2 linked regions of the Homo sapiens genome follow. The protein of the gene in region 1 purifies or fractionates together with the protein of each later gene. This does not show direct contact. Each region holds a gene or a part of one and is shown on either strand. Other genes may lie near its edges. The genes, in order: INPP5A and FLG.

The links.
Region 2: the proteins of INPP5A (region 1) and FLG purify together in Homo sapiens (affinity purification with mass spectrometry; one large-scale study listed by BioGRID and IntAct). This does not show direct contact.

The regions. Positions count from the first base shown.
Region 1 is NC_000010.11:132,743,488-132,747,302, reverse strand, and holds part of INPP5A (inositol polyphosphate-5-phosphatase A), read right to left. Parts: intron 1-3,815. UniProt on the Homo sapiens protein: Phosphatase that specifically hydrolyzes the 5-phosphate of inositol 1,4,5-trisphosphate to inositol 1,4-bisphosphate, and inositol 1,3,4,5-tetrasphosphate to inositol 1,3,4-trisphosphate. Plays a crucial role in the survival of cerebellar Purkinje cells.
Region 2 is NC_000001.11:152,315,173-152,318,987, forward strand, and holds part of FLG (filaggrin), read right to left. Parts: intron 306-3,815; 5' UTR 285-305; coding exon 147-284; intron 1-146.

The sequences.
Region 1 (3,815 bases):
TCTGGAGCCTTCAAACAGCGTGAGGATTAGAACAAGCACCCAAACAGCCACACAGCGGGGCCACCCTGCCCACCCCTGTGTCCCAAGGAGGTCCGGCCCCATCCAGATGCTAATGGGCTTAAGTGGCTTAAGCTGCTTTCCCTGAATGGGAGAAGGCTTGGCAGGCAGACGGCCATTGTAGCCATCCCAGGACGCGGCTCAGGAAATTCACGGCTCTGTCTCCCAAAAGGCATCTGCGGGAAACTGTTTAAAAACTGCTTTATCTCAGCACTTCAGGCAGGCTCCCAAAGGACAAACATCTGATGGACCCCAGAGCCCAGGAAGGGGCCGGCCACCCCAAACCCCTCCCCAGAGCTGCCTCATTCACAGGCTGTAAAGGAGTGATCAGGCCAGGCTGAAGGGGCCAAAGCTGGCCTGTTCCCTTTGCCTTTCAATCCAGCAAAGTCGTGGCCACTCATGCGGAAAGTGGCCAGGCTGGGCCTTTCCGGCTCGCCTACTTTGGGAAGGGATTCTTCTCTTTTGAAAGGAGAAACAAATACCCTAAATGCTATGTTTAAAAAGCCATCTAAGATGTATTTCATTATTAGCAGCCGCAAGGAGAGGCTCTGGAAAGAGTGGTCCGGTGTGCCGTCTTATCCACACTTAGAATTTAACGGGAACGCTGTGTGCCAGGGTCATCCACACGCGTGTGGATCACGAAGTTCCTGCATTTCTTCTTACTGTTTGGATAACCAAGGAGGCATGCTGCCTGGACAGGGCGTCCACAGGCCCAGGGCACAGGTGTCAGCCCAGGAGAAAGGCTGTTTTCTGTGCAAGGAAATAACGCAGTCATTCGGATGTGCACGGAGCTGCATGGCAGGCAGAGTCGCCCCAATGTGCACCTGTGCAGTTGGTCTCACGTTGGGAGCTGAATCTGTCCCATCACCCCCTCAACTGTCCCGGACACTCTGCCACAAAATCCAAAACTCTACTAAAGGCAAACACATCCTCTCAGACCCTGTCAGCCCAAGTTTTTAAATGCAACCTTCAAGAGCTGGTTTATAAAAACAAAAAGTTGTTCTGTACTCTCTGAAATGAATCCTCGCTGGCTGTAGCCTCCAGGCACCGCACGCACAGCCAGCAGGCGCCTGGGCTCCACTCTCTACCTGGAATCACCAGGTGTCCAGAGCGCCCTGCCTGGGCCAAGTGGACACACAGCCTCGGGGGCCCACTCAGGGCTCCGAAGAAGCCATCTGGGCACACGTGCAGGCAACGCCGAGGCCCTACCCCAGGCTTGGCTTCTAGGTCCTGCCAAGGCGTCTCAGGGTAGGCAGGGTAGGCGAGGCTGGGTGGGCAGCATGTGTTGCTCTTGTGGCTGAGCTGGGAGCTCTCACGCACCCGCCTGTTCTCCAGGACACACTCCTCCTCGGGGGCCACCACACCCGGGCCCACCACACCCGAGGCCACCATGGCCGGGCCCACCATGCCCAGGCCCACCATACCCAGGGCCACCACACCCGAGGCCACCACGCCAGAAGCCCACCATGCCCGGGCCCACCATACCCAAGGCCACCACAGCTGAGGCCCACCACGCCCGAAGCCCACCACGCCTGGGCCCACCACACCCGAGGCCACCATGCCTGAAGCCCACCATGCCCAGGGCCACCACACCCGAGGCCACCACGCCCGAGGCCCACCACACCCAGGGTCTGACACACTGTGGGCCCACCACACCCGAGGCCCGGGCTGGGGCCAGTGCCAGCCGTGACATGCCTCACATGAGGAGGAAGGTCCCAGCAGGGCCCAGCACAGATGCTGCCCGGACTCGGGAAGGGAAAGCTGGGATCCCAGGGGTGCAGCTCAGGCACTGGAAAAGCAATCAGGCTCGAAGGCTGGGAGATGCCCCTCCTGCCACACGGAGAGTCCAGTTCCCTGGTTACTCCCTGGTGGTCAACACACTCCCAGGCAGACAAGGGAATCCGTTAGTCACTGGGGCCACAAACCTCCTTCCTAGGGCCAGAGCCTGGCAACAGGGACAGCCCCAGCCCTCACCTTCCCAAAGGGGAGGTGTCCCCAGGAGCATCGTGGCCTCCAGGAGCTCGCGAGGGGATGGAGGACCCCGTCCTCTGTGGCAGGCAGGCAGAACCACCTGCCCCAAGATCAAAGGCTGACAGGCCATAGCGCCCTCCCACCACGTCACCCTGTGTCCCCAGGCCCTCCCAGAACCGCCCAAGCTCGCCTGGAGCAGAGGCAAATGCACCTCTGTGGCCTCCTGAGCCAGCCACTGGCTCGGGCACACCCTGTCCCCAAGCCTGTGCCACGGGAGAGGCGGGCAGCCCGGGCCTCGCAAGCTGCCAGGGGCTGCACCGCCGGGCCCAGGACAGCACTTTCGGGAGGGACAACGGTGCCGTGGTCTGTGGCGGCATGTCTAACATGGCGGCTGCACAAAGTGAGGCTGAGGTTGAATCCTAACCTTCCTCAGTGGATAGAAATCAGTCAGCCCTGCAGGTCGCCTCAGGCTCAGGGACAGCCCGGCCTCATGAAGCCTGGGAATCCCAACAACTTCTTCCTCTCCTTGAGAGCCGTGTCCTCTGTCTCACCTCAATGCAGGGAGTAAAAGGGCGTTCACAGTTAAATAAAATAAAAACGAACCACAAAGCCAACGTTGCCCCCGAATCTAGAAACACCACAGGCAGCTACTAAGGGGCAGATTCTAGTGCGTTCTTAAGGAATGAAACCATCATCAAGGAAATAAGGCTTTTTTCCTCCAAACTGAGACCCCCTAAAGGAGCCGGTATTGAAACTCCCCCATCTGCCCGACACCTACGGGCATATCCCACCATGAACGGGATGTCCGCTGACACCGATTCCATAGACACAGGGACCGGTGGAGCCGCAGTGTCCCACCCTCCCGGGGGTCCTGGAATTCCTGATCTGGCCATTGCCTCGGTGACAGCGGCCGCTCTGCTGCGGGAGCAGGGCCTCCTGGGAGGCCTGTGGGTGGTGGGGGATGGCTCACATGCTGGCCCCAGGACCAGGCCAGTTTCTACATACTCAGCTGCTGAGTCAATCCGTGGGGGGCTCAACTAACTTTTCTCATCCAACCAGAAGAAAAACCACCTTAAAGCAGAAAGCAACAAAATGAGCCTGCTCCTTGAGGCTACGACTCCCAGCCCCTCAGCAGGCACAGAAGCTCTGTGGGTGCACCTGTTTCCCTGGTGGTGTCTGGCAGCTTGGCCAGAGCCGGCCACTCCTCCACCTCTGTGGGGGCCCGTCCAGCCTGGCCCTTAAGTGTCGCAAGACACAGACCTGCAGGTGCAAATCCGCTGTGGCTGGAGTTCTTTCTCATAACAAAAACTTCCTCTGTTCCAAGGATGGAATTCGGGACCACACGCTCAGCCATGGTCTGTCTGCGCCAGAGTGAATGCACTAAAACCAGGAGGCTCAGATGTGGCCCCAGCCTGCCTGTCTGAGCCCCGGGGCCGGCCTTGGAGGGTGTCCTCAGCACACGTGTGCACCCCAGTCCTCATCACAGGTTTCCTGGGAGGGTAACGTCTGCGCTCCAGTGAGGCTGCCCGTCAGCAAGCTTAGCAAGGGTGTGACCGCTGTGGGCTGGCTGGGGTGGTGTGAACTCAGCCACTGACTTCAGTGATTCAGAAGTTTCCTCCCCACACGTGACGAGGAGTGAGTCCAGTCTTGAAGAAAGTGCTGATTCGGAAGCAAACTGCCTCTGGCACTTTGCAGACATCCAATTGATACTCACGGGACAAATGAATGAATGGAGGGAGGGGCAGAGCCCACAGCCCCAGGGTTAGGGTCCGGCCCTCCAGGGTTCG
Region 2 (3,815 bases), on another chromosome or scaffold:
AAAATAAAATCTATCTCTTTTGAGACAAGATTAACTCTTTTCCTATTTTAAGAGAAATAGTTCACAAAGAGCTCAAAATAACCCTTGCTTAGATTATTGATGAGAAAAACAAATGCTCTATCTTTGGTCTTGTCAGAGACTCTTACCTTCAGGATTTGCCGAAATTCCTTTTCCAGAAGTTCCTTCAGCTCTTTTTTACTCAATGTGTCAGTGTTTTTATCTTTTTTTGAATATTGCTTGAAAAGATTAATTATGGCAAAGATGTTTTCCAGGAGAGTAGACATCTTTTGGCAATAAATGTGAACCTAGAAAGAAGAAATGAAAATGCACTTTTTTATACATCTTTTTTTCTAGGTTATATTATTACAATCATTTTCCACATTTTAAACCTACATTTTCCTCTAAGTAATCCATCTTTAAGAATGGAAGATGGACATGAGAAACTTTTCTCTACCATCTACATAAAACAAATGAATAGAGTTTTCCTGACTTAAATAAAATTGCCCATTTTTTGGCCTTGTGCCCACTTACAGCTGGACTTAGTAGTCTCACAGACCTCAGTGTGCTCTAGGTAAGATCATCCCTCTTGCTGATCTTGCCATTGCTAGCAACAAGAATTTAGAAAGGCTGACTGGTTTTAAGCAGTAAAATTTACTTATACAAATTTACTGAAAATTACTTCCCCAAAAGCTAACTTAATAAATGATTAATTTGCTAAGACACAATTCTCTGAAAGCCAGTTAGCCATATGACAAGATACTCAATGAAAGTTCATTCAATTTTTTATTTGTTTTTTAAACATTTCATGAAGTTTATAATATTTCATTGTATAGGATGGATTTAATAGCTCTTCAATATTTAAAGAGAAAGGTTTTTCTGACTGGGTTTCATTTTGCCATTTAAGGAATGTTCAGTTTATCTCATTGGTGAAGAAATTAGTAAGCATGTCAATAAATCTAAGTGTGTATTATATAAAGAATTATAACTTTATTAGGACTTACAAAACCAGGTGAAACTAAAATACTGTAGAAAACAATGTGAAGGAGATTACTGTAGCAGTCACAACTAAAACATTTTTGGACCTTGGTTTGTTTGGTAAGAGGAATTAGATATTAATGAATTTTGCTGTGGTTAAGTGATATATGTATTTGGGTAAGTTTATGGGTATTTACTAAAATAATAGAATTTATAATTTCTAAACCATTAGAGATGAAAAAGGGGAATTAAGAAACTTTAATAATTCAACAGAAGCCAGGAAAGAAGAAAATAAGAAGCATAGAAAAAGAAGGGTAAACAGAAAGCATAAAATAAATTAATAGAATTACAAATAATTTTATTATTACTAATTACAATACATGTAAAATAGACCATATCTTGCCAGTTAAAATATAGATTGTAAAGATTGAATTTAAAAAATTACAGGTATATGCTTCTTACAAATGCATTTTAAAGTTTATGATTATTTTCAGCCAGTCTTATTTATGATGATATTGTATTCTCTGAACTTATCGTTACTTGCAACATATGCAAAATCTCTTTCTGAAGGATCTCACTCTTTGACCTTCTCTTGTACGCTGATGTCAATAATTCTTTAACCTCTCTATTTACTGCTTTATGTACTCACTTCCCTTTTTACCTTGGTTAGACATTATGTTTAATCTCCCCAAATGCCCCTTGGATACATCCACTTGTCCTACTTTTTCTTATACCCACTGGCCAAAGCTTCAACAACTTCTTCTTTCCTTTATCTCTGATGTCCTTGATTTTGATTCCTGAGAACTTGGAAGCCATTGGAAAAGAGTTTCCTCATTCTCCTAATATCTGATCTCCCAACCTACTACATTTCTATCCATATACCTTGCCTTCACTTTATTTAGGGTAATAAACAGTCTGTGCTCCTCCTGTCCTTTACTTTGGCACTGAGCCCCACTCTCTCTTGCCTACCCAAACACTTTGCTTTTGCAGTTGCCTACTTTCTCATATGCATCATTAATTCTTCTTTGTCTACTGGATCATTCCCTTCAATATATATTCATGCTGAAATATCTATCTAACACTTACCTTCCCATCTCCACCCCACCCTCAATCTCACATCTGCCTTTAGGTACCATCTGATTTATCTGTTCCCTTTTATAGCAAAATTCCTCAAAAGATATGCCTATACATTCTGTCTTTACTTCCTCATTCTTGTTTTCCTTTACTCAAGGTATTTTTCTTTCTAAAAAATGTATTAAAACTCTCACCAAGTAAAAAATATCCTTCATATTTCCAAATCCACATATCCATTTTTATTTTACATATTACTTGACATATCAGCAGCATTTGATGCAACTGGCTTCATCCTTCTTCAGAGACCTGGCACTCTCAAGTTTCTCCTCCAACCTCAATGGCCACTTTTTTCTTAGCCTCCTCGTTCAGCTCCTAATGTTGCTATGCCCTATGATTCACTCCTTAGCTTCTTTTCTTTATTATACTCCCTCGGGTCATCTCATCTAGTTCTATATAACTTTTTAAATAAGTTGGCAACTCACAAGTTTATACCCCCAGTCACTGACTGTCCCCTAAACTTGAGATGTGTATGTCTAAATGCCTATCCAGTATTTCTACTTGAGTCTTGTAGAGATCTTAAATCTATTATGTTCAAAACAGAAGTCTTGATTTTCAACTGCTTTACCCTAAAAATGTCGCACACCCGTTATCCTCATCAGTTATTCCTGTCTTCCTGATGGCTCAAGTCGTAAACCTGAAAATTAGTTGATTCTCCTTTTCTTACATCCAATATCTATTCCATCAACATGTTTTATTGATCCTACTTTCAAAATATCCCTAAAATTAGTCAGTTTTCCCTACTTCACTCTGTTTCCTTCTCTAGTAGTTTATTTTTATCACCACAGAAACATGCTGGAGTATCTTCCATCTTAAAACCCTTCCCTCGAACCATTATTCCACCCTCCCCCAACATTTCTCCTAACATCTTACTAGCCTAATTAACTGCTTCATTTCACAGGAGTCTTGGAGAAGTTTTCTCTGCTTTCTCTCTTAAAATGTTTACCACCCACTTTCTTTTTAACCTGCTTCTCTCAATTTTCTATCACCAAACTCTACTGAAACTGCTTTGTGTCAAATCATCTGTGATCTCCAAGTTGTTGAATACAGTGTCATTTCTCCATCATTACCTCATCATCATCATCTTACTTAATCTCTTGGTATGTGAAATAGAATTAACCATTCCTTTCTTAATGGAGTCTTTTTTTCTTGGATCTCATGACACCATATTCTTCTGATATTCCTCTTACCCATTGAATGCTGTTGTCTCTCAGTATTCTTTACTAACCTCTCTTCTACTCAATCTCAAAAGGTTGGAAATATCTGTGGCTGTGTCTTAGACCTTCTTTTTAAAAAAAATCTACACTCCTTTCTGAGGCAATGTCATTGGATCCCATCACTTCAGATACCATCTATCTGATGACTTCAAAATTGATACCTCTAGGCATAACCTTTTCTCAGAGCTTACATTCATTCATTCATTCCTTCATTTATTTAACAAGTATTGAACAGCTACTAAAGGGTTAGGCACTGTTTCATGCTTTGGAGATATAGTAGTGAACAAGATAGATGAGGTGCCTGCCTACTTTTGTGAAGACAATAAACAAACAATAAATTAATTCAACAATTAGATATTGATAAGTGATATGTACATAACTAAAATAAGAGTGCTATTATACAGAATATTTGGGGGTACTTTAAGGAAAGGAGGTTTTGTGGTAGAGGGGACATTTGAACTTAAAATGGAAAAATAAGAAGGAAGTAGCCTT